Linked DNA regions of Homo sapiens: all the other regions are linked to region 1. The links come from fine-mapping of genetic effects on gene expression. A gene starts in region 1. Each other region holds a variant in brackets. All regions are shown on one strand. Distances are between the middles of the regions.

Region 1 (7,438 bases):
CTATCCACAATAGCATTACCTATTATCTCTTCTAGAGGAGAATCACATTTGTATCATAACAGGTTTGTATTTCTTAGGGAGTGGTGGACATTCTGCTTAGAACAATCAAAACCAACATATCTAAACACTGCTTGTTAAAAAAAAAAACCCTGATCTTCCTTCCCTCTTCAATATTTGCTCATGCAACAAGCCTTTCTTGGTGCCCATTAGGCTCTAAATATATAAGACATGGCCCCTGCCCTCAAGGAGCCTTCCGGGGTGACAGTTAGGGAGGCTGACAGTTCCAGTTCTGCCTAGTGTTCTAATAGTGGCTTGAACAAAGTGCTCTGAGAGTGCTGTAGAGTCTGGGGGCTTCACAGAAGCCTTCCAGAGGTGGAGACGTTTGAGCTACAGACCGAGAGGGGAAGGAGTTCCCTATTTATGCTAATCATTTATCAAGCAAACTTTTATTGAGAAATTATATGACTATATGCCAGGCACCGTGCTCATTCTGGAGACTCAAAGACCAATGAGAAAATCTGCCTGCAAAAGGCTTTGTATGGAGCTGTAAAAGTTGGTACTGCCATTTTCCCTGGCACCATAGAGAACTTCACTCTTCTGGGCAGCTTGGTGATTTCTGACTTCCCTTCCAGCGCATGGTCTTTACTCTTTTCCATCTTCTCCATTCTTATTGTATCCTGAAGTCAGAATATACCTGTACTGGAAAAGATGCTTTCTCACCTGGTTCCCTTGCTCACTCCATGAAGTGGCATTTTTGCTGTATCATCCCGGCTACATCACTGCTGCCAGCTGCCTCAACACCTCTCAGAGTTTCCTACTGTCCATGGAGCAGAATCCAGGGCCATACAACTCTGGCCTTCAAGAGTTGCAGATGGCCTCTGCATGAATTAGAAAAAGCCACCCGTTTGAGGCTCAACTAGGCAAGGAGATTTTGTATGAACAAAAAGTAACCTTTTCCTCCAAGTGACTTGGATTTCAGCTCCCACTCACCCACTTAGCTGGGCATCTACTATACTCAGTGACCTTGGATTTATCTTATTACTTTCATTTTTTTCTGTTACTGCTTTCCTACCTTCCTTCCCAGCCAGCTGGACAAAGCTGGCATGTTCTCCCTGTGCCCATCCCTTATACCTTCTCCACCTTACCCACATCTTTCTTCCAAGGCTTCTTCTGAACCTAATCTAGTCTGAACTCCTGCAGAACTCATGATCTGCAGCAGTATTCAACTGGCATTTATGCATTTGAAGATTATATATGTGACAGGATATAGTCCCTTTATTGGGTTGTGAGCTTTTAAAAGGCAGGGATCAGATGGCATCTATACTTTGTTTATTCCACAGGGCTTTATGAGGGATGAAGATTGATGTTGTTGATAATGGTAACAGTGACTTTAAAAAAAGATCTCTCAAAGACTTCCAATAATACGTGAGCTTTAGAGAATGAATATTGAGTAACCCTCTTTGGTCTGGTTTGGATTCCTAGTACTGAGAAGTAATATAACTTAATTTCTTTCCAGATACAGTAGCCCTTTCATGTCCCAAAACTGAGTTTCACCTCTCAAAAGAGGGTTTTACTCTGAGATTTTCAGAAACCCCCAAATCCAACTCCTGCATATCATGCTTCACCATGAAAAGTTTACTTCCTGGCTAAGAATGGTCACTTCCCTGGCCCCTAGATTTCCTCTTTACTTTCTTCACTAGCAGTTGCATGTTGTTTTTTTGTTTGTTTGTTTCATTTTTGTTGTTTTTTGTTTTCCAGGCATTTGGACAAAGAAACTTCAAAAGCAGCCACTGTCCAACCAGCAAATTGATGGACTAGGCTTAGTGACCTACTGGATGTGAGACGCAGGGTGATTTGTCAGGCTTCTGGCTGGCTGAGCTATTCCCTCCCTGCGTCCCTCCCAAACCCTAGCACGGGAGTGATTTTGGTATCTTGGTGGAATCCTGCATAAGTTACTACACATCTCAATAAGGGAGGGCCTTCTCTTTTACTGCAATCCCCTCCACCCCCCAAGCCACACAGGAAGTTGCTCAGCTGATAGTTTCAGGGCCTCTGCCATACACTATTCCTTCCTCATCTGAGGGGGGAGAAACTGCCTCTGTGGAAGGAGACCCTCCTTGTTTTCCTAGAACAAAGTTGACACTTGCATTTGGCCCTCCAGCAGCAACCTGCTTGAAGTCTAAGAGTTGCTTTTCTCTTATCTCCAATCCTTTTCTTCAAGAGGTTAGACAGGCCATACATCATAGTGAATCTGCAGCCTGGGGCCTAAGGCAGTTTGTACACTTCCAGAAGAGGGAAGCCACTTCTAAAACAATTTCTTAAGGAGACTTCACCCAACCCAAGAAGCTGGGTGTTGCCTGGGCCATTTCCCTCCTCTGCCCTGAAGCAGTGGCCAGCTCAGAGAGAACCCTGTTGTTTTGTGTTTGTGTGATCTTTGGGTGGATGTGTGCACACCACCTGCTGAGCTTCGCTGTGTGCGTGCCTCACCGCCAGCCCTAATCTGCCAGAGCTTCCTGGCCTTGCAAATGTTTCTGTGGAGGGTCCATATTAGACTCCAGTGGTTCTTGCAGTCTATAAAGTCTCCTTGAAGGTGATTCCCTGTTCCTTGAAGACAACTGGCTGGGCTGGATGCCTGAATATAGCTCCCTGACTTCTCTAAAGGACAAACTTATTGCCCCTTTAGAGAAGTCATGAAGCTTTGCCGGCAAGCACAGAGTCTAGCTTAGAAAACACAACCAGGGCCAGGAGTGGTGTGGCTCATGCCTGCAAATCCAGCACTTTGGGAGGCCAAGGCTTAGAGGATCACTTGAGCCCAGGAGTTCAAGACCAGCATGGGTAATATAGTGAGAACTTGTCTCTACAAAAAATTTTAAAACTAGCCAGGCATGGTGGTACACACTGGTAGTCCCAGCCACTTGGGAGGCTGAGGTGGGAGGATCCTTTGAGCCTGGGAGGCAGAGGTTGCAGTGAGCTGAGATTGTGCCACTGCACTCCAGCCTGGGTAACAGAATGAGACCCTGTCTCAAAAGAAAAAAATAAAAAGACCACCAGGGCCCAGGCACAGAGCCTGGAGCGGGGAAGAGATAGCGGAGTTAACTGTGAATCCTGATTGCACTGACCACAGTCTAGTGAGCAACACATGTTTCCTTTTGAATATGAGTGGGAATCACCTTTAAAACTATATAACATTTGCATCTTCTCAAAAGCCCCAGGTCCTACTAAGATTGACTTAGGGCTACATATCAGGTCTCATTTTCAAGGAGGAAACACAGGGAAGCCTCAAGATGTGCAGAAGAGAGGGATGTGGGGAATACACCCAACCACTCCTCTGCTGAGGTTGGAACAGAACAAGGAAAGTCCCCGGACCTCCTCTCAGCAGGCAGAGAAGTGCGGGGCCTCCCTCTGGCAAAGCCTGCAGATGTGGCCAGCATACCTCCATACACACAGCTTCAGAGGCAAGGGTGTCCAAGGGAGTCTTAAGTTTTATCAGAAATAATGTCATTCGACTGACCAGTAAGGGGAGCTTTCAGAAAGTTATGGAAGAAGATGCGACAGACACAGGAAGGACTTCAGAAGCAAGAAGACAACTGGACTCTCTAAAATGCCACTCCGAAAGCGAAAAGGGAAGCCCACAGACCCACGAAGACGTGCTGGCCTCGTGTTGCCAGTTCTGTTTCTCTTTCAATACCCATCTCTTCAGATTGAAGGGCTTCTGCCTTCTTGCAGTTTTTGCTGACACGTTTACCCATTTACAAACCTTGGCTGCACCTAACTTTTTTTTTTTTTTTTTTTTTTTTTTTTTTTTAGCATTTAAGTTCCTAGCCAAAATACCCGGGCCTCTAGGAAAGCCCTTTTCTCTCCCTCTGAGATCTTTCCTTACCAACCCCAGCCTCCCAACCCGGGTGTCCTAGGTGGGACCAGGGACGATCCTTCGGAGTTGGTCAAGGAGGCGTCGGAACAGCAGGCATTTGCCCTTCTAGTTGGCAGCAGCGATGAGCCGCGTGCTCCATGCTCAGGGCAGGGGCAGCCGCCCGGGGAAGGGGCGCCCGATACACCGCTCACCGCTCAGCCCCGCGTCTCCCTCCGGGGTCCTTTACCTCCATGTCCTTCAGGTGCCGACTCTGCGGCAGACGCACCCGCTCGCCCGGGCCGGAGCTCACGATCCCCGCTGTCCCCTCCGCTCCCGGCCGTGGCCAGTTTCGGGCTGCGGCGGGCACAGGGCGAGTGGGCGGTGGCGCGCGCCCGGCTGCGCTCGGCTGCGGGACTGCCCCGGCCGCGGGGGCCCTGCGCGAGAGAACGAGGAAGGAGGAGGAGGGAGGGAGGGAGGAAGGGGAGGGGAGGGGAGGGTGGGGAGCGGGGAGGGAGGCCGACGATCAGGGTTTAAATTTAGACGCAAATCTAAACAGATACTGTCCCTCCCAGGGCAGGACTCAAGAGCGGGAGCCACGACTCCATGTGCCCAAACATGGGGATGGGCAGCCACCGGGCCCCTCTGTCTCGCGAAGTTTCTCAGGACCCTGGGCTTTGCCACGGTCTCAGTCCTTCTCAACGTCTCCCTCCCTTAATGCGCCTTCTTTCTTTTTCCTGTCCCTTCAAGAATTAGAGTGGTCCTTTAATTCTTTTTGTTTCCTCTCTTTTCGATTTCCTTCTTTTGTGTCCATCCTTCCTGCTTTCCTTCTTCCTCTCCCTCTTTTTAAAATTGCATTACTGTCATACCTGGTTTCCCTGCAGTTCTTGGGTGGAGTTCGAGGACCCTCCCTGGTGGAAGGCGTTTGTGTTCTACCAAAAGAGGAGCCCTTCTGACCGAGGCTTCAGAGCTCAGCGTGGCGCCGACGGGACCACCTTTCCCTTCTCACCTCTTTTCCTCTCCACCTTCCAGGAAACCACTATCTATCCATCTATCCATCTATCTTCTGTATACGAGTAGAAGGAGGAGGAGGAGGAGGAAAATCAGGAATCCACGCAAAGTTTTCCAAGCTCCCTGAAGTGGTAAATCTTTTCTTCAAACCTTGCTTTGACTGATGCATTCGGTTTTGTGGGAATTTTGGCTCCCACAAGCTGCTTGCTAAAGGGCCTCGTCTCCATTCCTGTTAAATATAGCAAAGGGCAAGATGCTCAACATCTGATTCCCATAGGGCCCAGCATAGCAACCTTCCTTTAGGGCCATCCCGGCTGGGCAGCAGAGACCGCATGGGAGGGATTCGGGGACTGGAATCTGCACCAGGGTCACTCCCTGCTACCCGGATCCCGGCCCCCTTCAGACCCTTCGGCAGAGAGAAACAGGAAAATGCCTTGAGAGACCTGTGAGTGCCAGGGTATTGGCTGGGTATATGACGCCTCTGGGTTATCCCACAGCATTCTCACCCGCCCAACCCCAGCTCAACCAGGGGAGGGGAGCCCCATCAGAGGTGGGCAATGGGACAGGTGATGGTGAGCACTGTGAAGAGACATGTGGAGAAACAGTAGAGAAAAAAGGCTGAGAGTCTGCTCCTGCTACAAAGACTACCCTGATTCTGGTTATCCCGGCACCATCTTTGCACTTTCAGGCACTTAGATTGCTGCTTTGGGTACCAGTCTTAGAAATATGGCCTCCTTCCTGTCCTAGAACTTTCTAAGGCCCAACTTTCTAAAACACTGGCAGCCCTAATGCCAGAGTGGCTTCTAGTTCTTTAGCTTAGCTAAGCATAGAGGAAGACGCCTGGTTTTAGGAACAGACAGATTGAGGGCTGAATTCCAGCTCTGCTACTTTCTAGTTGTATTTTTTAGACAAGTCACTTAACTGCTCTGATTCTCATTTTCCTCACCTATACAATGTAGTAGGCACTCTGCAAAAAGTGGCTGTTTTTATCATGCTTAGCCCCATGTACAAGCTTCAGATGAATAAGAGCCTGATATTTCTTTTATTTAGAGACAGGCACTCGGGGACCCAGTGAAAAGAGCCCTCACTCCCAGGAATTAATAGTGAGGCCCCTCCCAGTCCAGCCACATGGCTGCTCAGGTGAAGACTCGAGAGCAGAGTCGGCAGTAAGGAAGGGTATTTACTGGTAACCTGCAAGGCACACTTTTGCTCGTGCTTCTTTCCTTTCTTTTTAAAGGTGCAGGACGTAGTGATGACTGCATAGTCTACTATCAGGTCTTCTAACTCTGCTCCACAGGGCCTTTTCCTTTCTCCCTCTACCTAGTCCTCCTTTGTGCTCAGAATGGGGCTGCCCCAGCACAGGTTTCTGGCTTCACAAACAGGAGGGCGGAAGTGCTTACCCAGAGGAAACCGTTAGGCCTAGATAACATCAGTCACCCAAGGTGACTTGCAGCTGCTCCCCACGCCCTGCTTAGGCCTCTCTTGGCTGAGAACAGATGACCACAAAGCAAACAAGCTTGGCCTCCACCATGCTCCTGGGTCCCCAGTGCAGAGTTTAATGCTGCTCCAGAGCTATTTGGGCCCCAGACTGGGACTTCTCCTGAGGGAGGGGGTGGAAAACGGGGAGGGAGGGACCAAGAGGTAGCCCCGAGCTGTGTTTAGGCAGCCATGAGTAGGTGTGGTGTGTGTACTCCCCTTATCTTCTTCTTCTGTCCCTACAGAAGATCTCCAGGAGCCAGAATAGCAGTAACTCTGCTGATAAACACCCAGGTTTGCTGGGTTATCTGGGATTGTAACTGGCTGCTCTGGGGGCTGGGAGGAAACAACAGCCCAAGGGGAAGGGAAAGTGACTTTCCGAGGAGTTGGTTCCCCTCTCTCTCTGGAGGTCTGGCTGGCTAACACGGAACCACTTCCTTCAGTCTACCCTGGGCCTTCCCCTTCATATATCCTGATAGCCAGAACCAGCCACGCAATAAGTAGAGGTCATCAGGTAACTAACAATAAAAACACCAGGCTGGGCTCATGCCTGTAATCCCAGAACTTTGGGAGGTGAGGCAGGTGGATCACAAGGTCAGGAGTTAGGGACCAGCCTGGCCAACATAGTGAAACCCCATCTCTACTAAAAAAATACAAAAATTAGCTGGGCATGGTGGCGTGTGCCTGTAATCTCAGCTACGCGGGAGGCTGAGGCAGAAGAATTGCTTGAACCTGGGGGGCAGAGGTTGCAGTGAGCCAAATTCTTGCCACTGCACTCCAGCCTGGGTGACAGAGCCAAGACTCCGACAAAAAAAAAAAAAAAGGCCAGGTGCAGTAGCTCACGCCTATAATCCCAGCACTTTGGGAGGCCGAGGCAGGCGGATCACGAGGTCAGGAGTTTGAGACCAGCCTGGCCAACATGGCAAAACCCCGTCTCTACTAAAAATACAAAAATTAGCTGGGCGTGGTGGCATGTGCCTGTAATCCCAGCTACTTAGGAGGCTCAGGCAAGTGAATTGCTTGAACCCACAAGGCAGAGGTTGCAGTGAGCCGAGATCGTGCAGCTGCACTCCAGCCTGGGCAACAGAGTGAGACTCCATCTAA
Region 2 (7,438 bases), 29 kb after region 1:
CAATAGAGGAAGGAGAGCTGTGCTGGCGCTGGTCTGATCTGACTCATACTCTACCATCCCGGAGCCTCAATCACTGTCTGGTTGGAGAGGAGAAGGCCCTGGTGTGCTGGCAAACCCTGAACTTGACTGGATTAGATTAGGATGAGAGGGACAGGACAGTCAGGCTTCTGATAAGGATGGAAAAGTGGGAATTGGAGTTCAGCCTCCAGGAATCCTGCAGGCCCCCTGGTAGTGGAGCCATATATGTATTTGGGGTCCCACTACCAGAGAGGAGATACATGGGGACCGGTGAGGGCCAAGAACGTGGCCAGAGGTTGTGGTTGAGGAGTTTAGGACCCCAGATGAAAAACTCCTGTCTCCAGGGGCTGAAAGCAGATACTTAAGAATTCTTCTTGTGGGATTTGGACACAGACTGTGATCTACCTGCCTGCACAATGTCTCATTGTTCCTGACTTGTTAAGAAAGCTTCTCCTGATACTTGGTAGCAGTTCAGGTTGATGTCAGCCCCTGGGCTGTCCAGCAGAAAGATTTTCCCAGGTTTCTCAGTGGAGACTGGAGCCACCAGAACTGTGACACCCTGAACTTGAACCAACCAGCCAGTCTTGTCAGGTACCTCTGACCCGAAAGGTCATGCCAAGAGCCCAGAGGCTCTGATCATGATCTCAGCACTTCATCCACATAAAGGAGCCCACTGTTGTGTTTCCCAAATGCTGCAAGGCTCTTTTGCTCCGGGTTTCACTGATCCGCCCCTCCTTTTAAAAAGACTCTTGGATTCTGCCAACATTACTCTAGGCCTCCACTCTCTGCTCACCAAAGCCTAAGCCCTGTGGCCTTAGGGCCGATAAGTCCTTGGATACATTTCCCAGTGTGTTTTTCCTTGGTGGGCCGGTGAGACAAGAGACGATGGGGGTCTTTACTGTACTCATGTGACACATGGCTGTTCTGCATGCGGCAAGGCAGAGGGGCTGGGAAGGAGGGAGAGTATGAAGTGTCTGTTTTGTGCCAAGCATTGAGCTAAGCCAATTGTCACAATAATCCTGGAGGCAGATACCATCATCTTCAGTTTATAGATGAGGAAAGCTAAGCTCAGAGAGATTAAATAACTGTGAACGGCAGAAAAAACCGAGCCGGAATTAGACTTCAGATCTTCTGACCTTAAGTCTGGTGCTCTTTGAGTCATGCCACCTGAAATCAATTTGAGAGAAAGGGCAATTGTTGGCTCAATTTTGATGAAATAAGAATTTGAGGGGACACCCTCTGTGTGCCTAAGGATGAGGCCCAACACAGGGAACAGAATTCAGGAGACTCTGCAAGGGCAGAACATACTGGTAACATGTCCTGCAGGCTTTAACTCCTATTCTTTTTTCATGATTGTTCCACAGTCTTCTTTCCTAAGGACTATTATCAGATCCATATACCCATGTTAGTTAGAGTAAATGTTAGGCTTCTGTAACAAATAAACCCAAAATATAATGGCTTAAACTTAAGTTTATCTCTCTCACATAAAATTCCAGGTGAGTGGTTCAGAGCTGGTACACCACAAAATGTCTTGCTCAGCTCCTATCATCACATCTTGCATCCCTACCATCAAGATGGAGGAGAACATGCAACTTCTTTTTAAGAGTCTGGCCTTGAGGATTGCACATATCACCTCTACTTATATCTCATGTTGTCCCAAACAATGACATGAACAATTGTAGCTGCAAGGGAAGTTGGGAAATAGAGTCTTTATCTGAGTTTCCATGTACACAGTAAAAAAACTTCTGTTGCTATAGAAAAGAGAAAAAAATTGGGGAGAACATAGAGGAGCCACTACTATAATAATTTTGGAACACTCTTACATGAATTGATAGGCCATTTATGTTTTCTTTAAGAAGTCTGGGCCAGGCGTGGTGGCTCATACCTGTAATCCCAGCACTTTGGGAGGCCAAGGCAGGCGGATCACCTGAGGTCAGGAGTTCAAGACCAGCCTGGCCAACATGGTGAAACCTTGTCTCTACTAAAACTACAAAAATTAGCCGGGCATGATGGCAGGTGCCTGTAATCCCAGCTACTTGGGAGGCTGAGATGGGAGAATTGCTTGAACCCGGGAGGCGGAGCTTGCAGTGAGCTGAGATTGTACCACTGCACTAAAGCCTGGGCGACAGAGCGAGACTTCATCTCAAAAAAAAAAAAAAAAAAAAAAAAGTCTGGATTATGTGGCTTAGAGCCACAACTCTGCTACTTAGATGTGATCTTGGCAAGTTGTGTAACTTCTCTGAATCTCAGATTTTTCCTCTGTACAATGAAGTGATGAAATTAGCCTACCTACCAAGCTCGGATATTGGAAGGCCCAAATAAACTCATGTCTTTGAATGCTGCATGTAAGCTGCAAGGTCCCATGAAAAGTGAAGTGCTACAGCATTGGGCCACCCAGAGGGGGGTTTTTGTTTTTGTTTGTGTGTTTGTTAAGCATTTGGTGCTGGTTCCTCAGCTTGGTTTAGGGTGAAAACCACATATCCAAGTCTTCTGTATGGTATTTCCACTCTCAAGGGAATACTTTAGCACATCCTATTCACTTCTACTGGTTAGCCTGCCTCTCTCCCCAGAGCCCTGCCACTCTTGTGGGCTCCCATCCTTCCCTTGGGTGCAAGTCACTGCCAACCCACCCCGACTGGCCACTTCTGATCCCTAATCACAAGTGGGTAATAAAGGCCCCGAAACTTACTCCTCCCGGAGTGGATTTGGGTGGAGGGCCCCGAAACAGGCCCTGCAGGAAGGAGCCCAGGAAACGGCCCCCGGCAATGCTAATCTGAGCGTTTTTCCCCAAGCATATGCAACAAACCTCAAAAGGCCACCTCGGCATGCTTTCACACCCCTAGTTGAGATTGTATGACAGTCAGCAGTGTGTGTTAGTTACAGCAGGACCAGTTGTTATCTATTAGCCTCTAAGCTCCTTAAGGAAAGAAGGAAATAAACCTTTTCTCAGCATCTATTATGCCTTAGGCTCATAAACAATGTGCCAGCATTTATTCCTCACCCAACCTCACTGCCAGGAGGAATTATGACCTCCTTCTTGGTAGATGAGGAGTAAGAGGTTGAAAGAGTACCTTGTTCAGTACCAGACAGTCATCAAGTGAAGGTGGCAAGATTTGAATCCAGGATCTGATGCCAAGTCTGGCTCCCTCCTATGACACCGTGATTAATCTGTACTGTAGTTGAGTGTGAAAAGGTGGAAACTATGTGTTCAGCCATTGTACCTTCCCTTGAGCACTAACACGATTTCATGCCAGCAGGGCCTCAAAAGGATTAAAGAGAATGGCATTTTTCACCATTTTATCTCTGACAGTGCACAGCACAGTTCCTGATACGTGAAACAGGTCATTATGATATTTATTGGACATACCGAAATTGTTGGACTGATATTTTTTAAAAAATCATAGCTGTATTTATTCATTCCAAGAGCTGAAGGTGAAAGTGCCTTGCAAAGCCTTCCTGGGAGTAAGGTTGTCAGGCAGATAAAACAAGCTAGTGAAATCAGGGAAAAGATTTCCTGGACACAACTGTTCATGCCAGGCTTCCTGGCGGAACCACAGCAGGAGTTAACCAAGGGTCTACTGTGGTTATTGCCTGAGCCACACTCACAGCCATGAATCTGTGGCAAAAGCAGATGGCACTTCCGGCAGACATCCCCCAGAGGAGAGAATTTTCCATGAGGCCTGTGTATGGCAGCCAGCCATCCTGGGTTTCCTGGCATGGTCCAATTTCCCATCTTTTGTCTCAAAGTCCTTAGAAGGACATATGTATGGGGTGGGTAAAGTCCTGCTCTTAGTTATTTAATTTATTTATTTTTACAGGCAGCCTCTCAAACCAGAGTAGGCTCAGAGAGACTCCTGAGTCCTGCTTTTGAATTTGGAAAATATGGTTATAGCAGGCACGTGGAAAGTGCCTTTTATTGCCTCCCACCTGCAGATCAAAGGCAGAGGGGCCGGCCTGCCCAGGTCAGCCTGTTTCACCCGGGAAAGGGAGGGCCATCTGCTCCAGTCAGGAAGCCCTGGGGAGCCTTCTAATAGAGGAAGCCCACCAGGGCCAGAGCAGGGCTGTGTCCTAAGAATTCAACAGTCCCCGAAAAGTCCAAGAAAGTGGTAACAGGAAAGAAGCAACAGCAGAAGCAGAAACTGCTCTTTTGATCTCATTGC[G/T]CAAAGGAAGGAGGTGACCCAAGGCCTCTTGTGACACACACAGAAGCACATAGAAGTATATTTGGGGAAGTGTGTGAGAGCTCTCCCCAAAGATGTCTTCAGATTAGAGGTCAACCCTGGGTGGCTGCCCTGGGGCAAGCTGGGATGCTCTTGTGGTTCAGCTCTTTCCACACTCAGACGGGGTCACTGCTGGGTAACAATATGCCTAGCAAGCACAGGTAAACCAAGCCAAAAGCCTATTTGTTTTCTAGGATCAGTCTGTTAACCCCTCAACTCCCAGCCCAGCCAGGCAGGTCCCTATGGGTTAAGCTTTGTGCTAGGCCTCAGGAGACCTTGGGTCTCATCCCGATCCCCTAAACAGCTCTGAAGCCTGGGGCACATCACTTTTTTCCTCTGACCTCAGCATTCTCACCGGTTCAGTTAAGGAATCAAGAAGGCTAACAGAAGTTTAGAGGGCTTACCGCACACTGGCTGATCACTTTGCCCTGAAGTGATTCAACACTAAAAAAGCTCGAAAGTGTTAGTTTTCTTCAGTTTGGTAAAATCTGTGTGATTCTACACATCCTATTCATTCATTCGCTTGCTTAAACTTGTCCTGAGCATCACTATACATCAGCACTGCTAAGTAACAAACACTATTAGTGTCTCCTTATTGAGTTCCAACTAAGTGTCAGGCGCTTTAGATAGATTACCCCCACTTAATCTTCCTCACAGATCTGTGAGGCAATACCTCCATTTTTATTTATTTACTTTTCTTTTTTGAGACAGGGCTTTACTCTGTCACCCAGACTAGAGTACAGTAATGCAGTCATAGCTCACTGCAGCCTTGACCTCCCAGGCTCAGTTGACCCTCCCGTCTCAGCCTCCCAAGTAGCTGGGAGTACAGGTATGTGCCACCATGCCCAGCTAATTTTTATATTTTTTTGTAGAGATGGTGTTTCACCATGTTACCCAGGTTGGTCTCAACTCCTGAGCTCAAGCAGTCTGCCCACCTTGGCCTCTCAAAGTGCTGGGATTACAGGCGTGAGCCACTGTGCTCAGCAATACCTCCATCATTAGAGCAAGAAAAGGTTAAGCAGCTTGCTCTAGGTCATTCATCTTTCATTCTCAGTCAGTCTCCAAAGCTGGTGTTTTAATACACTAGTTCTATCCCTGCAGAGCTAAATGAGATGAGGTCATCCTCATTTCAAGGAAGTTCCAGCTAGCAACCCTGTGGTCAGAAGGCCAGGTTGCAGCCCCGAGAGTCCTGGCATTGTTCATAGGGTACATTAGGACATGTCACACTTGGAAAACCTGGCGAGCCTAGAACACATAGCAAACCATTTTTCTCTGCATGTTCCTAGCCACGGTTCTGCAGACCTAGCTTCCCACATGAATATTCTTTCTGTACCATGAATATTACAAACTACAGAAATAGTGCCCTCATGTGTCAGGAGCACAACGCACCTTTGAACTCTGGAGAAAGGCACATTTTAAACAATCTTAAAACTATGAAACACTTTTGTTTTTGCTTCTTTTGTTTGTTTTCGCTTTTGCTTTCTATGTCTTTGAAGCATGCTGGGAAGAAATGATGAAAAATTGCTAAATCTGCAGAACTCCACCCAGAGGCAAATTACTAAGTACCAGGACCTGCAGGAGAAACTAAAGGGAAGTAATCTTGGAATAGTTGGTATTCTATGAATTGTGCATCTGTGGATTCAACCAACTGCGGATCAAAATTGTGTGAGAAAAAAATTCCACAAAGTTTCAAAAAGCAAAACTTGAATTTGCATGCACTGAGTACTACATTGAATCCAGGCAAATGAAGTGATGTGTAAGCATTGCATTAGGTAGTCCAGATGTGATTTAAAGTATTTGGGAGGATATGTGTACATTATATGCAAATACGATGCCATTTTTTTTTTTTTTTTTTTTTGAGACGGAGTTTCGCTCTGTCGCACAGGCTGGAGTGCAGTGGCGCGATCTCGACTCACTGCAAGCTCCGCCTCCCGGGTTCACGCCATTCTCCTGCCTCAGCCTCCCGTGTAGCTGGGACTACAGGCACACGCCACCATGCCCGGCTAATTTTTGTATTTTTAGTAGAGACGGGGTTTCACCGTGTTAGCCAGGATGGTCTCGATCTCCTGACCTCGTGATCCGCCCGTCTCGGCCTCCCAAAGTGCTGGGATTACAGGCGTGAGCCACCGTGCCCGGCCGATGCCATTTTATATAAGGGACTTGGGCATTGATACGGTTTGGCTGTGTCCCCACCCAAATCTCAACTTGAATTCTATCTCCCAGAATTCCTACATGTTGTGGGAGGGAACCAGGAGGAGGTAATTGAATCATGGGGGCTGGTCTTTCTCATGCTATTCTCGTGATAGTGAATAAGTTTCACAAGATCTGATGGGTTTATTAGGGGTTTCTGCTTTTGCTTCTTCTTCTTCTCTCTTGCTGCCGCCATGTAAAAGGCGACTTTTGCCCTCTGCCATGATTCTGAGGCCTCCCCAGCCATGTGGAACTGTAAATCCATTAAACCTCTTTTTCTTCCTAGTTTTGGGTATGTCTTCATCAGCAGCATGAAAATGGACTAATACAGTAAATTGGTACCAGTAGAGTGGGGCGTTGCTGAAAAGATACTCAGCAAATGTGGAAAATGTGGAAGCAACTTTGGAACTGGGTAACAGGCAGAGGTTGAAACAGTTTGGAGGGCTCAGAAGAAGCCAGGAAAATGTGGGAAGGCTTGAAACTTCCTGGAGACTTGTTGAATGGCTTTGCCCAAAATACTGATAGCAATATGAAAAATAAAATCCAGGCTGAGGTGGCCTCAGATGGAGATGAGGAACTTTTTGGGAACTGGAGCAAAGGTGACTCTTGTATGTCTTAGCAAACAGACTGGTGGCATTTTGCCTCTGCCCTAGAGATTTGTGGAACTTTGAACTTGAGAGAGATGATTTAGGGTATCTGGTGGAAGAAATTTCTAAGCAGCAAAGCATTTAAGAGGTGACTTGGGTGCTGTTAAAGGCATTCAGTTTTAAAAGGGAAACAGAGCATAAAAGTTCAGAAAATTTGGAGCCTGACTATGGAATAGAAAAGAAAAACCCATTTTCTGAGGAGAAATTTAAGCCAGCTGCAGAAATTTGCATAAGTAGCAAGAGCCTAACGTTAATCCCCACGACCATGGGGAAAATGTCTCCAAGGCATGTCAGAGGTCTTCACTGCAGCCCCTCCCATCACAGGTCCGGAGGCCCAGGAGAGAAAGTGGTTTTGTGGGCCAAGCC
Region 3 (7,438 bases), 35 kb before region 1:
GTCCTGTGGAGGCCAATAGGCCTTGGCTCACATTATCAAGGTAATGGCAGAGCAGGAAGCTAGGAAGAAAAAAGAACTTTTTCCACTTTAATCAGTCTGTATCTGCACCAATGGTCTTACATGGTCACTTGATCAAATTGCCTATAATTATTTGTCCATGATCCCTTGAAAATTCTAGATAGCCCTATTATCCATAAATCAAGGTGTTTCCAGTGTTTAGATGTCACAGTCATTAGATTATTAGCAAACATGCAGAACTTTTTTCATGCACATCATTTCCTTACTTAATCTTTGACTGTACTTGGAATTAATGCATAGGGGAAGTGTCTAATTCGGAGGCAGAAGAAAAATAAAGGGATTCAGAAGAACACAAGCTTAAGTTTTTATAAATTACTGAATTCACAAATCTGTTTAACTACATTTGCAAAACACTACACAAAGTTCTAGAAAGTATTTATGAATGCCTAGATATACAGACAGCACAATCTGAAAAACTGACATCTGAGCTTCCTTCAAGCACAGTTTCACCCTGGGCACTTCCAGAAAACCCCCTGTGAAGCTCCCCTTCCCCACCATGCACCTTCCCCCATTCAGGCAGAATTGGCAGCTCCCTCTTTTTTTTTTTTTTTTTAGTACATCTTGGACATATTCATTCATTCATTATTTCTGTATTCCAGGCCCTGCAGTTGGTGCTCAGGGTTTAGGAATGAACCAAATCAAAAGAGTCCTTTCATAATGGAGGTTACAGTCTAGTAGGGGAGACATATATTCCATAGCCATTATTATCTTAGCTCCAGCTTATTATTTATTAGGGTGATAAATGCTGAAGAGGAAAAGGGTTTTAGGAGAGCAGGTGACAAGAAAATCTGACCCAAAGATGTGACATTTAAACTGAGGTCAGTAGAAGTGATCCAGGCAAAGTGTGAGGTTTGAGGGGTAAGGAGGGTTAGTCAGAGGGTGGCCAGAGGTAGCCAAGGGCATTTGAGTAGAGTTTACACAAAAACCTCCTGGAGGAGAGACAGGAGGTGTTTGAGGAACTGAAAGAAGATGTGGCTGGAACTCACAGAGTTTTTTTTTTTTCTGGAGACGGAGTCTTGCTCTGTTGCCCAGGCTGGAGTGCATTGGTGCAATCTCAGCTTACTGCAACCTCCGCCTGCCAGGTTCAAGCGATTCTCCTGCCGCAGCCTCCCGAGTAGCTGGGATTACAGGTGCCACACTCAGCTAATTTGCTAATTTTTAGTAGAGACGGGGGTTTCACTATGTTGGCCAGGCTGGTTTTGAACTCCTGACCTCAGGTGATCCATCCGCCTTGGCCTCCTAAAGTGTCGGGATTACAGGTGTGAGCCATCACACCTGGCCCGAGAGCTTTTAAAATACCCACATTTTTCATGTTTTTCTCTTTCTACTGTAATTGCTGAGCACACAGACCATGTGTTATTCATGGCTCCATCCCCTAGCCCATAGTAGGTACTCAGTAAATGCCGGTAAATGAATGAACAAATAAATGAATGATGCCTCCGTAAACCAATACCACTGGGGCAACATTGTGAGGGATTGATAAATATAGATCAGGACCTTGAAGCAAAAATGGAAACAAATTGTCATCCAGGGAGGCTCTGAGCATACCAGGCTTGAATATTTTCATTAAGGTTCAGTGACTTGTCCAAGCTCCCTAAAATAGTAACCAAAGGGCAAAGAATGAGACTTTCTCCTGCCCAAGCCATTACTTAACAATCTGAGCCTCCTGTCTCTAACTGGAGCTATGAAATCTATTATAATTCCATATCTCTATCCATGGGTATCTGTCTTCTCCAGTTTTAACAACCCAACCTATCCTAGAACATGACACATCAAAAATACTTAAAATTTGTTTCTTTATCTAGAGTGGTTGAATATATCTGTTTGCTGCTTGATATTTTCAGATCCATTTCAGCAAGGAGAAAATTTGAAGAAAAGAAAGTTATAATGCAGAAGGTAGAATTAATATATTATGAATATAGTAGAATGGTGTCTGCCCCAGTTCTGAAGTCCACATCTCTGGTCCGGTCTCAGTATCTGCCTTCAGTCACCAAGGGAGAGGCTCCATGCCTCCAAGCCCCTTCCAAGGGCTCCTCTGCAGCCCAGGGATGCTCAAGGCAGGATTCCACAGTCTCTAGTATATCAAGAGGGCTCCATCCAAAGTACGGGATAGGCGCCCCCTCCCTTGAAGCCTACTCAGCTACAATGAGGCGGCCCCCTCCCTTGAAGCCTACTCAGCTACAATGGGACCAAAAGGAGTCTTGGAGCTGAGTTTTTAAAATAAACTTTTCCATCTCCTCTCACCAGCCTGCTACAAAAAGGGAAAAGAAACAAAAGCCATCCAGCTGAGTTGAATTGCTTCACTTGAAAGTTCTATTGCAGGGGTCTCCAATCTTTTGGTTTCCCTGGGCCACAGTGGAAGAATTGTCTTAGGGCACACATAAAATACACTTAAAAAACTCATGATGTTTAAAGAAAGTTTATGAATTTGTGTTAGGCCACATTCAAAGCCGTCCCCCTTGGCCACATGTGGCCAATGGGCCGTGGGTTGGACAAGCTTGTTCTATTAGGTTTTACAGAGCAAAGCAGCTAGGCTCCTGGCATGGCAGGGAAGACTGTTGGGTGTTCAGCCTGCAGAGGTTTGCTGATGGCCAGCCCTCTCTCTTCCACCCACCCTTTCCTCTGGATGCTCCCTTTGGGCCTTGGGCTGATTCACAGTTACTGTCCCCTCCCAGGGCTGACGGAAAGCATTCCAGGGCTTTCCGTCATGGTCCCATGAGAATTCAGACCTGTGTGTGGGGAGTGGCAAGTCCCCTCTGTAACTAGCATCATCCGCATACTCAGGAATTCTCTCTACACTTCCTTCCTGCTCACTGTCTCTCTTTAGAAACTGGTTTTGAATGAGTAGTAGTAGGCTTTCATAATGTATTTTTCAACAGTAATAAAACAGCTAATTTACTGAATGATTATTGTGCCAGGTACTGTGCTAAGATGATCTCATTGAATCCCCATGACACCTCTGTGACATGGATTCATAATTATCTCCTTTTTACTGATGAGAGAATTGAGACTCAGGAGCCCAAGTAACTGAATTATGGGTTGTGGAGCTACTGATGGGAGATCTGGAACCCATGCTCAGTTGGTTTATTAAAGCCTGTGCTCCCAACCACAACTCCACACTGCCTCCAGCAGGAAAAGCATAGAGAGTTTACGTTTTGGGATTAAAAAGTGCTCATTTGGCTAGGCATGGTGGCTTACGCCTGTAATCCCAGCACTTTGGGAGGCTGAGGCAGGCCTATCACTTAAGGCCAGGAGTTTGAGAACAGCCTGGCAAACATGGCCAAACCCCGTCTCGACTAAAAATACAAAAATTAGCCGGGTGTGGTGGCACACGCCTGT[A/G]ATCTCAGCTACTCAGGAGGCTGAGGCACGAGAATCTCTGGAACCTGGGAGGCAGAGGTTGCAGTGAGTGGAGATCATGCCACCGCACTCCAGACTGGGCAACGGAGTGAGACTCTGTCTCAAAAAAAAAAAAGGTGCTCATCAAATTTATTAATAATGAGACAATAGTAAAAATGGGCAAAGGATTTAAACAGACACTTCACCAAAAAATACATATGAATCACTAATAAGCACATTAGTCATTAGGTAAACACAAATTAAGACTGTAAAGAGATACCACTACACACCCACAAGAATGGCTAAATTAAAATGAACTGACAATACCAAATGACGGTGAAGCTGCAGAACAACTGGATCACTCCTATATTGTTGGTGGGAATGTGAAACAGTATAGTCACTTTGAAAAATATTTTGGTAGCTGCTCGTGAAGTTAAGCATACACCTACACTACACCTACCAACAATCTTACTTGTATTTGCCCAAGAGAAATGAAAGCTTATGTTCACATAAATACTTGTATACAAATCTTCAAAGAAATTTTATTATTAATATCTGAGACCTAGAAATAACTCAAATGTCCATCAATGGGTAAGTAGACAGACAAATTGTGTTATACGTACATTATGGAATACTATTCAGCAATAAAAAGGAACAAACTACTGATACACACAGCAACATGCATGAATCTGAAAAGCATTGTGTTAAGTGAAAGAGGTCAGACAGAAATGACTTCCCGTATGGTTCTATTTACATAACATTCTTTAAAAGGCAAAACTATAATAACAGAAAGAAGATCACTGATTGCGTGGGACCAGTGGTGGGGGCAGGGAATTGACTGTAAAGAGTGTGAAGGGTCTTTTGGGGTGATAGAAATGCTCTATATCTTCTTCTTCTTTTTTTTTTTTTTTTTGGTGACACAGAGTCTCACTTCATCACCCACGCTGGAGTGCAGTGGCACGATCTCGGCTCACTGCAACCTTCACCTCCTGAGTTCAAGAGATTCTCGTGCCTCAGTCTTCTGAGTAGCTCGGATTACAGGCATGCGCCACCACGCCTGGCTAATTTGTATTTTTAGTAGAGACAAGGTTTCTCCAGGTTGGTCCGGCTGGTCTTGAACTCTTGACCTCAGTTGATCCACCCGCCTTGGCCTCCCAAAGTGCTGGGATTCTAGGCGCGAGCCACTGCACTGGGCCAATTTTTGTATTTGTAGTAGAGACAGGGTTTTGCCATGTTGGCCAGGCTGGTCTCAAACTCCTGACCTCAAGTGATCTGCCAGCCTCAGCCTCCCAAAGCACAAGGATTACAGGCGTGAGCCATAACAGCCAGCCAGAAATGCTCTATACCTTGATCATGGTCTACATCTCGTGGTGGTGGCTATATGACTGTATACATTTGTCAACACTCATCAATGTATACACTTAAAAGGGGTGAATTTTATTGTAGATATATTTTACCTCAAAAAGGTGATTAAAACATTTTAAAGTGCTCATGATAGTTCAAATACAAAAGTTGAGGTGCACTCAGGCTGCAGGAGGTCTTTCATTTGCCCTAGGGCTAGGAACCTGGCTTGGTCTCAGGATGCCAGCTCTGTGTGCCTCAGGGCGTGAGCAGGAATGCGCTGTGGCTGCAGGAGGCTGGCAGCCTCTGGTAGCTGCTGGGAGTAGGCCACATCCAGCCACTCCTGTCCAGCCCAGGGCAGCTGCCAGGACTCATGCAGCAAGATAGTGGAGACAGCACAGAATTTGGAGCTTGGCAAGACCAGGTTTGGATCCCACTCTGTAATTGACGGGTTGTGGGATCCTAGGCAATTGACTTAACTGTTCAGACTCTCATCTGTAAAATGAGGATAATAACACCCCCTACAAGGTCATGGGGATACTAGGAGATGGTGTTTGATTAGACAGTTTGGGTTCACATCCAGACCTTGCCTTTTACTAGATGTGTGATCTTAGGCAAGACACTTGACCTTATTGAGCCTTAGTTTCCCCACTTGTAAAATAAACATTTATAATAGCACTTATTTTTTAGAATTGTGATAAAGCCCAAATGAGATATTGCATATAAAGCCCCAGCACAGTGCCTGGCACATAATAAGCTCTCCCCTCATTTTAGCTATTGTTGTTGTCACCTAAGATACCAACTGGCACACAGTAGGTGTTAGTCAAAATGTGGGCTCCCTTGCACTCTTCGTAGAGATACCAGGCTGTTGCCAGTTTGGCCCTGAAGAATTCTAAGGGGGTGGCAGGGATCTGCTGTTGCCAAGTCATTTTCATTCCCATCTTGCAGAATAGGTTGGCAGAGCAGATGGGCTGGCATTGCATCTTCATGTCGGAGGAATTTACAAATGGGAGTCTTTGGAACCACAAGAGCAAGCTGGAGTGTGATTCTGGCCTCCAGCCATGAGGACACTCTCTCAGAGAAGGGCCATTTGTGTGCTGGGGTCATTTGGATGTCTCCAGGCTGTGGGGTAGGGTAATGGGTCAGGATCAGCCTTCAGAGGGAAGACTGCTTGTGGCTTCTGCAGGTTGGGGAGGGTCTTGCCGTTACCCAGGCGTATGGTATGAAGGGGCCATAAAGGGCAAGTCCAGTGCAGCTGGCTAGTGCAGCTGGCCTCAGGGGTGTGGCCACAGTTTGAGGGCTGTGCCTGCCCCTGCAGGTCTAGGCCTGATGGGGATAATTTCTCAAGTGAGGGCAGGGGCTCTCAAAGGCTTCTGTGGGTGAATGGCCTGAGTAGTTCTCCAGGGAACACAATGGTCTAGGGAGTGGGACTACGGGGTTAAGTCTCTGAGCAGACAAGCCCTGTCCTGCAAAGTTAGAAGGGAAGATCCAGATGAGTCATTTCAAGAGCTGAGCAGCTGGGAGGCAGGCGAGGCCACTGACCCAGCAGTCAGAGGAGCGGCGTGAACTCACTGGCCCTGATGACCTTCTGCTTCATCTGTGAGATGAGGGGCTTGCAAAGGACGCTTCCTAAGACCCACGCTGCTGGCTTGCTCTTCATTTTTAACATAACGTAAGAAGAAAATTGGGAAAACTTGGGTTATCTTTCTTATGTAGATGAAAATAGAGGTGGATAATGGATAACCTAAATAAGTTCAGGCAGAATCGCAAGAAACTCGGCCAGGGAACTCAGGGATGCCAAGCAAACCCAGCGCTTGCTACAGCCCCAACATCTTCACACTCAGCTCTTCCAAGTAAAGAATCCCATCCCTCCTCCTCCTCTTCCTTCCTAAGAAGATTTTAGGAGTGGAACTCCCTGCCTTTCTTAAATCAGGAATAAAATGCCCAATATGATACGGTCCTTTTATTCCAAATTAGCAAGCTGAGGCCAGCCGTTCTTTCGAAAAGGAGAGTTTCTGGAAAGCAGATGGCATGGCTCAAATAGCCTAGGAGGTGTCCACAAGCAATTATAGAGGAAAGTGGATGAAAAACTGGTAATGAAGAACAGTGACCAAGATGATCAAGGGACACAAGGCCAGAAGAAGTATAATTGTGAACGGGGAGAAGAAAAAAAGAAATGAGGAGGCAGAAAGAGAAAGAGAGAAAGAGAGAGACAGCAAGATCAAGACAGCCTGCATATACCACATACACACACGAGTGTGCTGCCTGCACACCCCAATCCCCCAGCACCCCAGGGGATTGCTGCTACCCAGCTAGGGAAAAAATAACCTTCACTTTGGTTTCATCAGAAAAGTCATAAAAGATGGAATGAAGATTTTGTTTTCTTTCCTGTTACTTTTTTGCCATCTGCTACAGCAAGGGCACAGGCCCAGCCCCTTGGCCAGCTTGAAAGCCTCATGGTTCTGAAGCAGGAAGGGTCAAGGCAGGAAGCAGGGGCTCTAAGAATAGAATGGGTCATCTAGGGAAGCTTTTGGAATAGATACAGACAGGGCTTTTCACTAATCCCCTAGGGTGAGTGACTGGGGCACTCCTCACTCCCTCAGGGGGCTCCCAGACTCTAAGCAGAGGTTAACATACAAGGTTGCTGCACAGATCAATCTGTGCATTATATTCCTCATGGGAA
Region 4 (7,438 bases), 82 kb before region 1:
TCACGCTTGTACTTTGGGAGGCCGAGGAGGGTGGATCAACTGAGGTCAGGAGTTGGAGACCAGCCTGGCCAACATGGTGAAACCCGCCTCTACTAAAAATACAAAAATTAGCTGGGCATGGTGGCAGGTGCCTGTAATCCCAGCTACTCGGGAGGCGGAGAATCGCTTGAACCTGGAGGGCGGAGGGGGCGGAGGTTGCAGTGAGCCGAGATCACACCACTTCTCTCCAGCCTGGCGAAAGAGCGAAGCGAGACAACGTCTCAAAAAAAAAAAAAAAAAAAGAAAGAAAGGAAAAAGAATTTAAAATATAGTTAAGAAGCCATGCTTACTATATCTAATTAAAGATATTGGGACAATCGAACAGCAATCACACAATTGGTTGCCAATTCTACAGTAGAATTTCGTGTTGGTGTAGGTGTCTTGCGCTCTAAGAAGTTACAGTTGGAGGAGATAAGACTGAAACCCAGTTATTTACCACATACTATTGGTTTTGATATGTTAAAGGATCTTTTTCTGGGAAGGTTAGAGTTTGGGATTTGTCCAAAAGCAAACAGGTTTTCCAGCTGAAGAGAACACTTCGAGTAAAAACAGAGATGGGAATTCACAAGGCTAGATAGGTAGGGCTTTGAATATTACAATAAAAAATATCGGCAAGAAACCGAGATTTTAACATTATAGAAAAGTGCGAAAAAGAACGAATGAAACATCCAGAACTCACTCAGTAACGGAGAGAGTCTGGAATCTGCCACAGTGACATTGTCCCACACTAATAGCCATTTATTAGCCATGAATAGAAATACAATTACAATTTTCGAAATAAGAGGTCGATATTATACTGATAGTGACAATTTTGCTGTCTTCTGTGTTACTGATTTTCAAAGAGCAAAACAGAAAAGAAAGAAAATTGAAAACGCGGTATCTATAGAAAGCAAACACAACCCAAAGATCGAATCCTAACATGCGAGCAACCACTTGAGGGCGCAGGACTAAATAGCTATGTGTTCCTTTCTGATGACAGTAAGGTGGAGTTTGTGTCGGCTCGTTGGTCTAGGGGTATGATTCTCGCTTAGGGTGCGAGAGGTCCCGGGTTCAAATCCCGGACGAGCCCTGTTTTGGAGTAAGAATCACTTAAAGGTGAGTTTTTTTGGGGATAGATTACTAAACGTAATAAATACAGGTTGGTCAGAGTAAAACACAAAATTGAGATTTTTGGAAACTTAGAGCACACTCTACATTGAAATACCATTAAAAGGCCTCATTTTGAAAATGTAAAAAGTTTGCTAGTAATGTAGTATTGTACTATGAAAACATTGTCCCTAGCTGTCTATTCCTGGGTGCAGCGCGTGTACAGGGCCATCGGGAGCTCAGTTCTTGGCTGCCTATGGCGTGGTTTAAACTCATCCACGACAGTGCCCCTCATCGGGGGTGGGGATATCTCCTGAGCGCCCCTTTCCTCGGAAATGCTGATTCCCGAACCCCGGGACATGCTAATCCATGACGCCCCCTGCTCGTTTGGAGGAGTTAAAGGCGTGCACAGGATTCCGCACTAGGCGTCTGTTTTTCAAGAGTGTGTGTTTTACATGGTACAAAGCAATTTGAATGCGTTGCCTTTGGGCGTACAGTAACCATATGTTGTATTAATTGAGCTCACATGGTCCCTCGCTTCAAAAAACAAAGGGGATCAACATTCGAGCTCATGGGACCAGTATGTTTTCATTTAAGTTTCTGAATGGAATATGTGGGGAATTAGGGGGAAAAAATCTGTTTTTAAATTTCGGGTGTGGGGTGGGTAAAAGCCTGGGCTCGTCCGGGATTTGAACCCGGGACCTCTCGCACCCGAAGCGAGAATCATACCCCTAGACCAACGAGCCGCTCTCGGCAAGGGCACTCCCAGAGCTTCCCTTCAGCCTTGTTCCGCCTCTCACCTCGTGTTCCGAGCAACCACGACCTGCGACCCTTATACTGCGTGTCCTCTGATTCCCTAAGCCTCGGGTCCGGAGCGCTTACTGCCCCACAGCGTGGAGGAGCAGGGAGGGACCGGCTTTTGCCTGGTCCGGCCGTTCCAACCCCCCATCGCCGGCGTGGCCTCCACGTTCGCACGCGCTCCCGGAAGCCGCCTTCCGGCTTACGGGCTCGCCCCGGCTGTTCCACTCGCAGTGTTGGCGGGCGCCCGGGAGCCCGGGCTGAGGAAAGTGCGGGGCGGGGCAGGGCGCCTCAGGACGCAGCCCGGTGCCAAGTCCCGGCGGCGCCCCGCCCGCGCCCAGCCCGTCAGTGCACGCAGAGCTGGGCCTGCTCGCTCCGCGAGTGGGTCGGTGAATGAAGACGGGGAGTCCGAGCGAGGGAAGGGAATACCCGAATCCTGGCTAAGAAAGGGGTGGTGGGAGACGAAATCCCATAGGAGTGAATATTAAGTTAACTCCCCGAACCTTCATTTGGGGATAGTGCACTCTTTTAAGCCCTTTGCTTGTATTGAACTCACCTGATATTCGTAATAATCCCCTAGGTGCCATTGTATCTCCATTTGCAGATGAGGAAACTGAGGCTCAGAGATGTTAAGTCGCTCACATAAATCCACTGGGCTAGGAGCTGGCGGTGGCGCTGGTCTAGGAACTCCCGAGGTCCTGGAGGGTGGGACAACTGGGGGCTGGGGCGTGTGAAAGGGACTGGAGAGTTGGGGAGAAGATTGGTACCTCGGTAGCTTGGAGAAGAGAGGGCAGTGGCAGTGGGCCGGGTCTTCTCCCTCCCGTCCAGCAGAAAATGTGGGCCTGCCCTACTGCTCTTCTGCTCAGAGGAGCGGGAGTCCGAGTGCGGGGTCTCCCGCCGGTGTGGTTTCCCGGCCTGGGGTCTAGCTCGTCTTGCCTGCTTTCCGGACTGCTCTCACC[G/A]CTTCCCCCCACTTCACGACCCCAGCCCGCCACTCTGCACTCCGGCTCCTTGCAGTCTGTGGCCAAGTTGCAGACGTCCCTTATTTCTAAAACACTCTTGCATTCTTAGGCTACTTTCAGTTCAGCGTAAGAGAAATCCATTGCTCTGTAGCCTGGTCAGACGTTCTTCCAGGTCCTGGTGGTGCTTTTGCCCTGTCACCTGCTAACCGAGAGCTTCCCACGTGCACCCGCTTCTCTGCTCTTTTCTCTCTCTCTTCCTCTCTTCCTTTTAATGTCAGTGAGCTTTTGGGACGACACTTAGCGATAGGAGGTCAGGACCAGGGTTCATGCCGGTGGGGAGTGTAACGGGAAATGCAGTGAAGACACCTCAGAACAAACAGCGAGCACTGAAAAACCTTTCTTTAGCCCACTCTGGCGATGTAGAGAGCCCTGTCGCTGGCTGGTGCAGGGGCCAGGTCTAAGGTGGGCAGCCCTGTCTACGCCTTCTATTTGTTTGGAAGTGCGTAAAACTATTGACACCCTGTCCTTGTCTGAGACCACTTTTCTTCCTCCTACTTACCTAAGGTGTGAGAACTGGATATTGTTTAATTTCTTTTCTTTTCTTTTTTATTTTGAGACGAAGTGTCGCTCTTGTTGCCCAGGCTGGAGTGCAATGGCGCGATCTCGGCTCACCGCAACCTCTGCCTCCCAGGTTGAAGTGATTCTTCTGCCTCAGCCTCCCGAGTAGCTGGGATTACAGGCATGCACCACCACGCCTGGCTAATTTTGTATTTTTAGTAGAGACGGGTTTCTCCATGTTGGTCAGGCTGGTCTCGAACTCCCGATCTCAGGTGATCCGCCTTTCTCGGCCTCCCAAAGTGTTGGGTTGAGCCACCGCGCCCGGCTAGATATTGCTTTTAACACACTGTTTGGTAGTTTGAGGATGGGTCAAGGGTGGGGAAGGTTGGGGAGAGAGTTTTCATTAGGGCAAGTCCTGAGCAGCTAAGCGTCGCCCTCCTTCCCTTTGAGAGTATGCGTGCCTTCGCTGGGGCTCTCTCTGCCTTGCCTGAGCTGTATCCCACTCCTGGGAGCTTTGACATATTCCTGCCACTCACCATGTGTGTGGAACATGATAGAGGTGGACACTTCTATCTTTGCTGAGTATACACTCTCAAGGGTTTTTTGTTTGTTTTTGTTCGTTGTTGTTTTAATTTCCCAAGCCTGGGGAGAGGGATAAAAAATAAAAATAAGTTCCCAAGTCTGCTTTTCCACTCCGTTAAGTAGTTTGTAATGGCTTCATAGTATCCCATCAAGATAATGGCACATCCTTTTCTTAATTATTCTTCCACTGTATAAGTAAGTGGTGTCAAACATTTTGTTGAAATTTTGTGTATATACTTTTTTTTTTTTTTTTTTTTGAGACAGGGTCTCACTCTGTCACTCAGGCTGGAGTGCAGTGGTGCCATCATGGCTCACTGCAGCCTCAACCTCCTGGGCTCAAGTGATCCTCCTACCTCAGCCTCCCAGGTAGCTGGGACAGGCATGTGCCACCTACACCCAGCTAGTTCACCCACACCTGGCTAATATTTTTGTATTTTTTTGTAGAGATGGAGTTTCACTATGTTGCCCAGGCTGGTCTCCCAACTCCTGGGCTCAAGTGATCTGTCCACTTCGGCCTCCAAAGTGCTGGGATTACAGGCGTGAGCCATTGCACCCTGCCCCTTTCCATGTACTTTGGATTATTTCCTTAGGACACACTCCCAGAGTTGGCCTGGTCACAGAGACAAACACTGATCCTTGGCCACTTTTATAACTCTTGATGCAATTCTGTGCTAAGGAGCTTGGCTTGGCTGGTTAACAAGTAAGATGGAAACGTGGAAGAAGAGGAACAGTGGCTCTCAGATAACTTTAAAGCCCATGATTTGATCTTTTAATTTCATTTAAGGGTTTTGATGGCATCAAAGCTTTTGAGAATGCTGATAATAAGTATTGTTGATGATAACAATTTTGACTTGGGGTCAGATGCATAAAAGGGAGTAAAAGAAATTAGAAAACTAGTAAATCCATTAGGAGATGATTAGAATAACTCTGGGATGACATTATTGAAACTGTGAATGGGCATTTAAATCACTTGTAATGGGGATTCAGTGACTATTTAATAACTAAGATTTGCTGGCTACTGAATTCTTACCCAATTTAGGCTTAGGTGGTGCAGACTTGGCTCTGTCTAGCAAGATCAGTCCTTAGGAATAAGAATACAATTAATTACATGGGTTCACCACTCCAAGGAACCTTCTCGCTAACTTGGCACACAAGACTGGCCTCATGCTCATATGCTGAGCCTTGTTTGCTGCTTGTGGGGTTATGTACTAATGGACTAGAAGGCCATGGCAGTTGTCTTGGTAGGCTTGTGTCACGCACAGCAAGCCTTCCTCCAATTTAAACAGAAACTTGGATCTGACTGAAAATTTGTGTCTTTTTCCAGATTCTAGTCCAATATCCAGCAAAAGCTTCAGCTACATTTTACTAAACATATTTCTATTTGGTTTCCCTCAGTGATCCTTTTTATGAGGTTTAGATCATGTGTCCCTCTGAATTTTGCAGTCCCTTCATTGAATCACTATTAATGAATTCTTGGAATTGCCTCAGCCTCTTCATTTTTCATTCAAAAGGTTTTGCTTGTTTTTAAGTTCTGAGAGTACATGAGGTCAGAGGGGTAATATGAATCTCAGATGTAGATTGTGAAAGAACTGCTCTCCGCTGGGACACCTTCACTTTCACCAAGGAGTCTTATTACCTGTTCATCTTATTACCCTCTGTTTTATACAGACCTAGTTCTGGTCAGATGTTTCTGGTTAACACAAAAGTGTATCATTTTCATGATCAAACTTGTGATTCTTTATGAAGACATGCTCATGAGAGTATGTTACAAAAAAGAAAGAGAAAATTAGATATAGTAAAATCCCAATTTTGCACCAACCAAGAATTAAAACAAAACGTATATAATGCACTAAAAAAAAAGAAGAATATCCATAAAATAGTAACATTAGTTATCCCTAGATAGTGGACTTAAAAATACTTTTTTGTTTGCTTCTTAAAATTTTTTCTTCCCCTCCACCAATTTTCTAAAATAAAGATGCATTGCTTTTACAATGAGAAAAAAATTAGGATAATTAACGTTTTTAAGCCACAAAGAAAACAGGGGTCTTGAAACTGCATTTCTTTGTTCTTGGTAGAATGGAGACACAGAATTAGAAGCAATGTAAAACAGGCCCTTTTGTGCTTCTCCATCCCTTCTGCTTCCAGAGGTGGTCAATAAGCCTGTTTGTATCACTCCTGAGAGGCCAGGTGCAACTGTGATGGGGATGTGCCTGGCACCGTCTAGCATGTGTGGCTTCCTTAGATAGTCAAACAGCAGTGACTAGTATTGGAGGTCCTATTGTTTGAAGAGGCTATTATTTTCTTGGGGGGGAATGAGTATCTGTGTCTTGGCAATATCCATCCTTTGAGTACCAATCATATAATTATTCTAGAATTTTGTTTCTGCATGCTGGTTAAAGTGCAATTCAGTCCACTCATTCTTTAAAACAGAAGCACCTGGTAAGTGTGGTAACTGACTTAGGGGTTTACCCAAGTTAGAGTAACTTTCTCTAATTTCTTTCTTTTCTTTTTTTTTTTTTTTAGAGACACAGTCTCACTCTGTCGCCCAGGCTGGAGTGCAATGGCACAATCTCGGCTCACTGCAACCTCCGCCTCCTAGGTTCAAGCGATTCTCCTGCCTCAGCCCCCGGAGTAGCTGGGATTACAGGTGTGCGGCACCCTGCTCAGCTAATTTTTGTATTTTTAGTAGAGACGGGGTTTCACCGTGTTGGCCAGGCTGGTCTCGAACTCCTGACCTCAGGTGATCCACCCACCTTGGCCTCCCAAAGTGCTGGGATTACAGGTGTGAGCCACTGCACCTGGCCACTTTCTTAAATTTCTATGTAAAACTACATCATGAAGGACTAGAGTCATATTACTTGCAGGAGTACTTGGGGGCGGGAATCCTAGCCTTTTTTTTTTTTTTTTTTTTATTGAGACCGAGTCTCACTCTGTCACCCAGGCTGGAGTACAGTGGCGTGATCTCAGCTCACTGCTGCCTCCACCTCCCGGGTTCAAGCGATTCTCCTGCCTCAGCCTCCCCAGTAGCTGGGATTACAGGCACACCAACAGACTCAGCTAATTTTTGTATTTGTAATAGAGACGGGACTTCACCATCTTGGCTGGTCTTGAACTCCTAGCCTCAAGCTATCCACCTGCTTTGGCCTCCCAAAGTGCTAGGATTACAGGCATGAGCCACCGCGCCTGCCCAGAATCCTAGCCTTTTCTGACCTCTTCCTTCGGCATCCTGCTTCCCTCATAGTGTCTTCCTGGCTGCTCCAGGCGGAGGGTGTTCAGCTCCCATGGAGAAGCCCCACAGCTTTTCAGGATTAGGGGGATGTGTAAGACATCTCTTAGTTCCTGTTTTGGATGTGGGTGGTTTTACTGTTGGCTTCCTTTACCCTCTGAGGCATGTAATACATTCATCATCTCTTCCT

The links.
Region 2: its variant is fine-mapped to the expression of RCSD1 in whole blood (TOPMed, PIP above 0.99).
Region 3: its variant is fine-mapped to the expression of RCSD1 in macrophages (Nedelec 2016, PIP 0.95).
Region 4: its variant is fine-mapped to the expression of RCSD1 in whole blood (TOPMed, PIP above 0.99).

The regions. Positions count from the first base shown.
Region 1 is chr1:167,627,089-167,634,526 of GRCh38, reverse strand. It overlaps RCSD1 (RCSD domain containing 1), which reads right to left and starts at 4,295. Exons shown (of 7, transcript NM_052862.4): 1 at 4,098-4,295. The coding sequence starts at 4,103. RefSeq lists enhancers at 3,509-3,578, 6,097-6,146, 6,157-6,326, 6,407-6,466 and silencers at 4,119-4,338, 4,359-4,438.
Region 2 is chr1:167,598,394-167,605,831 of GRCh38, reverse strand. No RefSeq gene overlaps it. Among named protein-coding and RNA genes, the nearest start is that of RCSD1, 28 kb to the left of the region's middle. RefSeq lists an enhancer at 4,066-4,215. The variant G/T (reference allele first, on the strand shown) is at 4,179.
Region 3 is chr1:167,661,930-167,669,367 of GRCh38, reverse strand. All of the region lies in intron 1 of RCSD1 (RCSD domain containing 1), which reads right to left. Among named protein-coding and RNA genes, the nearest start is that of RCSD1, 35 kb to the right of the region's middle. RefSeq lists an enhancer at 6,229-6,328. The variant A/G (reference allele first, on the strand shown) is at 3,418.
Region 4 is chr1:167,709,158-167,716,595 of GRCh38, reverse strand. TRP-CGG1-1 (tRNA-Pro (anticodon CGG) 1-1) reads right to left here and starts at 1,871; the gene lies at 1,800-1,871. It overlaps TRP-AGG2-1 (tRNA-Pro (anticodon AGG) 2-1), which reads left to right and starts at 1,037; the gene lies at 1,037-1,108. RefSeq lists silencers at 1,751-1,850, 2,151-2,390 and enhancers at 2,861-3,020, 2,515-3,353. The variant G/A (reference allele first, on the strand shown) is at 2,883.